Homo sapiens: one gene and its partner. The protein of the gene in region 2 purifies or fractionates together with the protein of the main gene of each other region. This does not show direct contact. Each region holds a gene or a part of one and is shown on either strand. Other genes may lie near its edges.

Region 1 (3,650 bases), on a different chromosome or scaffold from region 2:
TGACTGCAAAGGTGGCCAGCTTCCTTCAGAAGCGTTTCTACTGTTTTTGTTTTGTTTTGTTTTGTTTTGTTTTGTTTTTGAGATGGAGTCTTGCTCTGTTGCCCACACTGGGCCCAGCCTCCCGAGTAGCTGGGATTATAGGTGCACAGCACCACACCCAGCTAATTTTTTTCTTTTGAGACGGAGTCTTGCTCTGTCACCCAGGCTGGAGTACGGTGGCATGATCTCAGCTCACTGCAACCTCCGCCTCCTGGGTTCAAGCGATTCTCCTGCCTCAGCCTCCTGAGTAGCTGGGATTATAGGCGGGTGCCACCAACCCGACTAATTTTTGTATTTTTAGTACAGACGGGGTTTTCACCATGTTTGTCAGGCTGGTCTTGAACTTCTGACCTCATGATCCACCTGTCTTAGCCTCCCAAAGTGCTGGGATTACAGGCTTGAGCCACTGTGCCCGGCCTAATTTTTGTATTTTTAATAGAGATGGGGTTTCACCATGTTGGCTAGGCTGGTCTCGAACTCCTGACCTCGTGATCTGCCTGCCTCAGCCTCCCAAAGTGCTGGGATTACAGGCATGAGCCACCACGCCTGGCCCGCTTTCTTCAATAATGGCTTTTATAAGAGAGAGTCACTTTTTTTTTTTTTGAGACGCAGTCTCACTTTGTTACCCAGGTTGGAGTGCAATGGTGCGATCCTGGCTCACTGCAACCTCCCAAGGTCAAGCGATTCTCTTGTCTCAGCCTCCTGAGTAGCTGGGACCACAGGTGCCCGCCACCACACCTGGCTATTTTAAGTCCACCTTTTTAAAGTGTACAGTTCAGCATTGGCAGGATCTCCACAGGGTTGTGCAACCACCACCTCTAATTCTAGAACATTCCATCACCCAAAAAGAACCCCCTCCCCATCAGCAGTCCCCAGCCCTGGCCCCCACGCATCCCCTCCCTGTCTCTGTGGATGGGCCTGTCCTGGACATTTCAGGACATTTCATGGAAATGGGATCACGCACCGTGTGGCCTTTTGTGTCTGGCGTCTCTCATTGAGTGTGACGTCCTCAAGGTGCATCCATGCTGTGGCGGTGTCAGAGCCTCGCTCCTTTTCGTGGCTGAGTCACGTTCTAGCGCGTGGACGGCCCCTGGGTCGCCTCTCACCTGCACGTGTATCGGTTTGTAACTTGTGCACAAGGAACCAGGAATTGCCTGGAGGTTCCTCTTGGCACATTTTTGAGCCCTCCCTTGGGCCTGGTGCTTGGGGCCCAGGCGGGACCAGAGGGTCACGAAGCCTTGGTCCGCAGGAGGTGCGGGAGACGCGGCGGCGGCACGAGCGGCGCCTGGTGGAGGTGGACAGCAGCCGGCAGCAGGAGTACGACTTCAAGATGGCACAGGCGCTGGAGGAGCTGCGGAGCCAGCACGACGAGCAAGTGCGGCTCTACAAGCTGGAGCTGGAGCAGACCTACCAGGCCAAGGTGTGGCCGGCAGGCGGGTGGGCGGGGGCGGCCGGTGGGAACCCCGCCCCGCCCCGCGCCCGCACTCACCCGCCCGTCTCCCCACAGCTGGACAGCGCCAAGCTGAGCTCTGACCAGAACGACAAGGCGGCCAGTGCGGCTCGCGAGGAGCTGAAGGAGGCCCGCATGCGCCTGGAGTCCCTCAGCTACCAGCTCTCCGGCCTCCAGAAGCAGGTGATGAGCACAGCGCCACCGTCTGCCGTCCCCCTGGCCCAACTTCTGGGCCCTGCCCTGGATGTGCGGGGCGTGGGGCTCTGGCCTCTTGGCATCGGATGCAGCCCTCGGGGCGCCCAGCGATGCCCCTTCCCTCCCCTCCCGTGCGCCCCATGCCCAGGCCTGGTCTCTGCCCCAGTCTGTGGTGAGGGCCCATCTCCCGCAGTCCCAGGATCACCTGGGCCTTGTGACCCATGGGCTGCCCTGACCTTCGCCACCCGCCCCCTCCGCAGGCCAGTGCCGCTGAAGATCGCATTCGGGAGCTGGAGGAGGCCATGGCCGGGGAGCGGGACAAGTTCCGGAAGATGCTGGACGCCAAGGAGCAGGAGATGACGGAGATGCGGGACGTGATGCAGCAGCAGCTGGCCGAGTACCAGGAGCTGCTGGACGTGAAGCTGGCCCTGGACATGGAGATCAACGCCTACCGGAAGCTCCTGGAGGGCGAGGAGGAGAGGTGCGGCAGGCCAGGAGGCTTGGGAGCACAGAGTGAGGAGGAGGGGCAGGGCAGGAGGAGAGGCGGGACGGGGCTGCGGGGAGTGCTGGGCAGGGGTGGAGGTGGGGCCGGGCCGTGGCCGCCACTCTGCGTGCCCTGGGCTGTCTGGGGCTCCCACTACCAGTCCCACCTTCCTTGCCTTCCCCACAGGCTGAAGCTGTCCCCCAGCCCATCCTCGCGCGTCACCGTCTCACGAGCCACCTCGAGCAGCAGCGGCAGCTTGTCCGCCACCGGGCGCCTGGGCCGCAGTAAGCGGAAGCGGCTGGAGGTGGAGGAGCCCTTGGGCAGCGGCCCAAGCGTCCTGGGCACGGGCACGGGTGGCAGCGGTGGCTTCCACCTGGCCCAGCAGGCCTCGGCCTCGGGTAGCGTCAGCATCGAGGAGATCGACCTGGAGGGCAAGTTTGTGCAGCTCAAGAACAACTCGGACAAGGTGACCGGAAAGACCGGGGCATGGGGGTAACGGGGTGACCCAGCTGATGGGGGTGACCAGGGTCAGGGTGACGGGGCTGCCGGCCAATGCGAGGCAGGGGACAAGGTGACCGGAATGACCGGGGCATGGGGGTAACGGGGTGACCCAGCTGATGGGGGTGATCAGGGTCAGGGTGACGGGGCCGCCGGCCAATACGAGGCAGGGGACAAGGTGACCGGAATGACCGGGGCATGGGGGTAACGGGGTGACCCAGCTGATGGGGGTGACCAGGGTCAGGGTGACGGGGCCGTCGGCCAATGCGAGGCAGGGGACAAGGTGACCGGAATGACCGGGGCATGGGGGTAACGGGGTGACCCAGCTGATGGGGGTGACCAGGGTCAGGGTGACGGGGCTGTCGGCCAATGCGAGGCAGGGGACAAGGTGACCGGAATGACTGGGGCATGGGGGTAACGGGGTGACCCAGCTGATGGGGGTGATCAGGGTCAGGGTGACGGGGCCGCCGGCCAATACGAGGCAGGGGACAAGGTGACCGGAATGACCGGGGCATGGGGGTAACGGGGTGACCCAGCTGATGGGGGTGATCAGGGTCAGGGTGACGGGGCCGCCGGCCAATACGAGGCAGGGGACAAGGTGACCGGAAAGACCGGGGCATGGGGGTAACGGGGTGACCCAGCTGATGGGGGTGACCAGGATCAGGGTGACGGGGCCGCCGGCCAATGCGAGGCAGGGGACAAGGTGACTGGAATGACCGGGGCATGGGGGTAACGGGGTGACCCAGCTGATGGGGGTGATCAGGGTCAGGGTGACGGGGCCGCCGGCCAATGCGAGGCAGGGGACAAGGTGACCGGAAAGACCGGGGCATGGGGGTAACGGGGTGACCCAGCTGATGGGGTGACCAGGGTCAGGGTGACGGGGCCGCCGGCCAATGCGAGGCAGGGGACAAGGTGACCGGAAAGACCGGGGCATGGGGGTAACGGGGTGACCCAGCTGATGGGGTGACCAGGGTCAGGGTGACG
Region 2 (3,650 bases):
AATTAATTCTCCTGCCTCAGCCTCTTGAGTAGCTGGGACTATAGGCGCACGCCACAATGCCCAGCTAATTTTTGTATTTTTAGTAGAGACAGGGTTTCGCCATGTTGCCCAGGCTGGTCTTGAACTACTGCCCAGGCTGGTCTTGAACTACTGACCTCAAGAGATCCGCCTGCCTCGGTCTTCCAAAGTGCTGGGATTACAGGCATGAACCACACCACTCCCGGCTAACACAGAGCCACTTTCATTGTAACAATTTATTTATTTATTTTTTGGAGACAAAGTTGCGTTCTGTTACCCAGGCTGGAGCACAGTGGTGCCATCACAGCTCACTGCAGCCTTGACCTCCTGGGCTCAAACAATCCTGCCACCTCAGCTTCTCAAGTAGCTGGGACTACAGGGACATGCCACCACATCCAAATAATTTTTTATTTTTTAGTTTTTTTTTGAGACAGAGTCTCGCTCTGCCACCCAGGATGGAGTGCAGTGGTGCGATCTTGGCTCACTGCAAACGCCTCCTCCGGGGTTCATGCCATTCTCCCGCCTCAGCCTCCCCAGTAGCTGGAACTACAGGCGCCTGCCACCACGCCCAGCTGATTTTGTTTTTGTATTTTTAGTAGAGACGGGGTTTTACCATGTTAAGCCAGGATGGTCTCGATCTCCCGACCTTGTGATCCACCTGCCTCGGCCTCCCAAAGTGCTGGGATTACAGGCGTGAGCCACTGCGCCTGGCCTAATTTTTCATTTTTTAAAACTGTTTGTAGAGACAGGGTCTTGCCATGTTGCCCAGGCCAATTTCAAACACCTGGGCTTAAGCGATCCGCCCACCTCGGCCTTCCAAAGTGTAGGGATTATAGGCATAAGCCACTGTGCCTGGCCTTTTAACACTTTAAATTCATGTCTACCTACATCAAGTGAGTCCTTAATATTGCCTGACAGTCACAATACAGTTTCTTGGTACATTCCCTCTTCTAGATGCCTATTTTCATACCTTCCTTCTATTCATACCTCCAATATTACTTCCCCTGTGAGGACCTTGTTTTCTATTCCACTGAGAAAAGAGGAGCCAGAAAACAACCTCCACAAGCTCCCACCACGACACTACCACACTTCCCTGCAACTTGGCCCACGTATTCCATGAGTTCCCGCTGCTCTGAACCAGCAAAGGCCAGTATCTCCTACTACATCCTATCACTTTTCCCCAACCCAAAGGCATTTCTCCACTAAATCTCTCCTCTCTTTTCAACATCATCTATTTTCTTCTGTATCAGATCACTGCTGCCAGCACATAAATTTGCTCCAATTTCTACCACAAAAATCCTCTCAAGCCATACCCTCCCTCCATTTATCTGCTTGAGCAAAGTTCCTCTAAAGAGTTGTCTATACTTGGCCGGGCGCAGTGGCTCACGCCTGTAATCCCAGCACTTTGGGAGGCTGAGGCGGGCGGATCACGAGGTCAGGAGATCAAGACCATCCTGGCTAACACGGTGAAACCCTGTCTCTACTAAAAATATAAAAAATTAGCTGGGTGTGGTGGCGGGCACCTGTAGTCCCAGCTACTCGGGAGGCTGAGGCAGGAGAATGGCGTGAACCCGGGAGGCGGAGATTGCAGTGAGCCAAGATTGCGCCACTGCACTCCAGCCTGGGCAGCAAGACTCCATCTAAAAAAAAAGAAGAGTTGTCTATACTCATTGCCATAGGTTCCTTTCCCTTTTATTTTCTTCCCTACAATCAGGCAATTCCCCTACCAATCTAGCAAAACTATTTTGATAAGGTAATTCTACCTTGCTAAATCAGTCACTTCTAGTCCATATGTAACATGACCTGTCAGCAACATTTTTACTTTTTTATTAAAAATTGATTTGTGCAGGGTGCAGTGGCTCACACCCATAAGCCCTGCACTTTGGGAGGCTGAGGCAAGCGGATCACCTCAGGTTAGGAGTTCAAGACCAGCCTGGCCAATGTGGTGAAACCCTGTCTCTACCAAAAATACAAAAAATTAGCCGAGCATGGTGGCGCGCACCTATAATCCCAGCTACTCAGGAGACTGAGGCAGGAGAATCGCTTGAACCCAGGAGATGGAGGTTGCAGTGAGCCAAGACCACGCCATTGCACTCCAGCCTGGGCAACAGGGCAAGACTCCGTCTCAAAAAAAAAAATTATTATTATTACTATTATTTTTTGTAGAGACAGGGTCTCACTACATCGTTCAGGGTGGTCTCAAACTGCTGGCCTCAAGTGATCCTTCAACCTTAGCCTCCCAAGATCCTGGGATTACAAGCGTGAGCTACCGCCCCCATTCAAGTCAGCAACATTTGACACAGTTCATTATTCCTTCCTGGAAATACTTTCTTTAGTTGTCTTCTGGGATACCTCACTGCCTAGTTTTCCTGCTACTTCACTAGCTGTTCTTTCTCAGTCTCCTTTACTAGTTGCTTCCATCTTTCTCACCTCTAAACATTGGAGAGTACCAGAGTTTGGTCCCTGGACTGCTATTCTTCTTTATCTATGCTCTGATCTCACTTAGACTGACAGCTTTAAATACCTGGTGATATCCAAATTTATATCTCCAGGTAGGACCCCTTCCCTTAACTCTAGAGCTGTATCCCCAGCTGCCTTCTCAGTATTTTCCTTTGAAAATCTAACAAGCATCTCAAATTTAACACGGCCAAGTTAAAACTCCCCCTTTTCCTCCCCAAACCTGCTTTTCCCTAAAGAATCTCTTTATCAGTAAATGGCAATCTCATTCTTCCTGTTTTTAGGCCAAAAGACATATCTAGAACCAGACATAGAATCATCCTTAAGTCCTTTCTTTCATACTTCACATCTAATTCATCAGAAAATTATGTCTACTCTATCTTCAACTACTTCTCATCATGTCCATCACTATCTCCGTGGTCCAAGCCCCATCATTTCTCACTTGGATAATTCCAACAGCCTCCTAACTTCTCTGCTTCTGCCCTTGCCTCTACATAGCTTATTCTCAAAAAGGTGGCCAAAGTGGCCTTTTAAAACATTAATCAGTGTCACGCATCAGCTCAAGGCCTCCAATGACTTCTCATCAGAGTAAAAACCAAGGCCTTTGGAATAGCCCTTTAAAATGTGGACCCATCATTAACTCATTCACCTCAACTCCTTTTCCTTCTTTGTTTATTCTATTTTAGCAACCTAACTTTATGGACACACCAGAAATACTCCAGCTTTGGGATGCTTGCACCTGTCTGGAATACCTGTCACAGTGTGGTGTATTCTTTCACCTCCTGCAGGCTGTTCCTCAACTCTCACTTTCTCAGATCATCCTGTTTAAAACTGTAGCCTCTCTAGCATCCTCACACTTCAATCCTCTTTCCTTATTTTTCTCATAGTTATTATCAGCTGACATATCACTTATTATTTTTTCTTTTTCTTTTAGAGAGAGCCTCGCTTTGCTTCTAAGGCTGGAGTGCAGTGGTACGATCAAGGCTCAATGCAGCTTTGACCTCCTGGGCTCAAGTGATCCTCCCACCTCAGCCTCCTGAGTAGCTGGAATTACAGGTGTGTGCCACCACACTCGGCTAATTTTTAAAATTTTCTGTAGAGACTAGGTCTCACTATGTTGCCCATGCTGGTCTCAAGTGATCCTTCTGCTTCGGCCTCCCAAAGTGCTGGAGTTA

What was found. Proteins that work in one complex are often made in the same cells at the same time.
Region 1: the proteins of KDM3B (region 2) and LMNB2 purify together in Homo sapiens (affinity purification with mass spectrometry; one large-scale study listed by BioGRID and IntAct). This does not show direct contact.

The regions. Positions count from the first base shown.
Region 1 is NC_000019.10:2,432,810-2,436,459, reverse strand, and holds part of LMNB2 (lamin-B2), read left to right. Parts: intron 1-1,288; coding exon 1,289-1,459; exon of another isoform or gene 1,460-1,546; coding exon 1,547-1,672; intron 1,673-1,944; coding exon 1,945-2,165; intron 2,166-2,354; coding exon 2,355-2,634; intron 2,635-3,650. UniProt on the Homo sapiens protein: Lamins are intermediate filament proteins that assemble into a filamentous meshwork, and which constitute the major components of the nuclear lamina, a fibrous layer on the nucleoplasmic side of the inner nuclear membrane.
Region 2 is NC_000005.10:138,394,130-138,397,779, reverse strand, and holds part of KDM3B (lysine-specific demethylase 3B), read right to left. Parts: intron 1-3,650. UniProt on the Homo sapiens protein: Histone demethylase that specifically demethylates 'Lys-9' of histone H3, thereby playing a central role in histone code. Demethylation of Lys residue generates formaldehyde and succinate. May have tumor suppressor activity.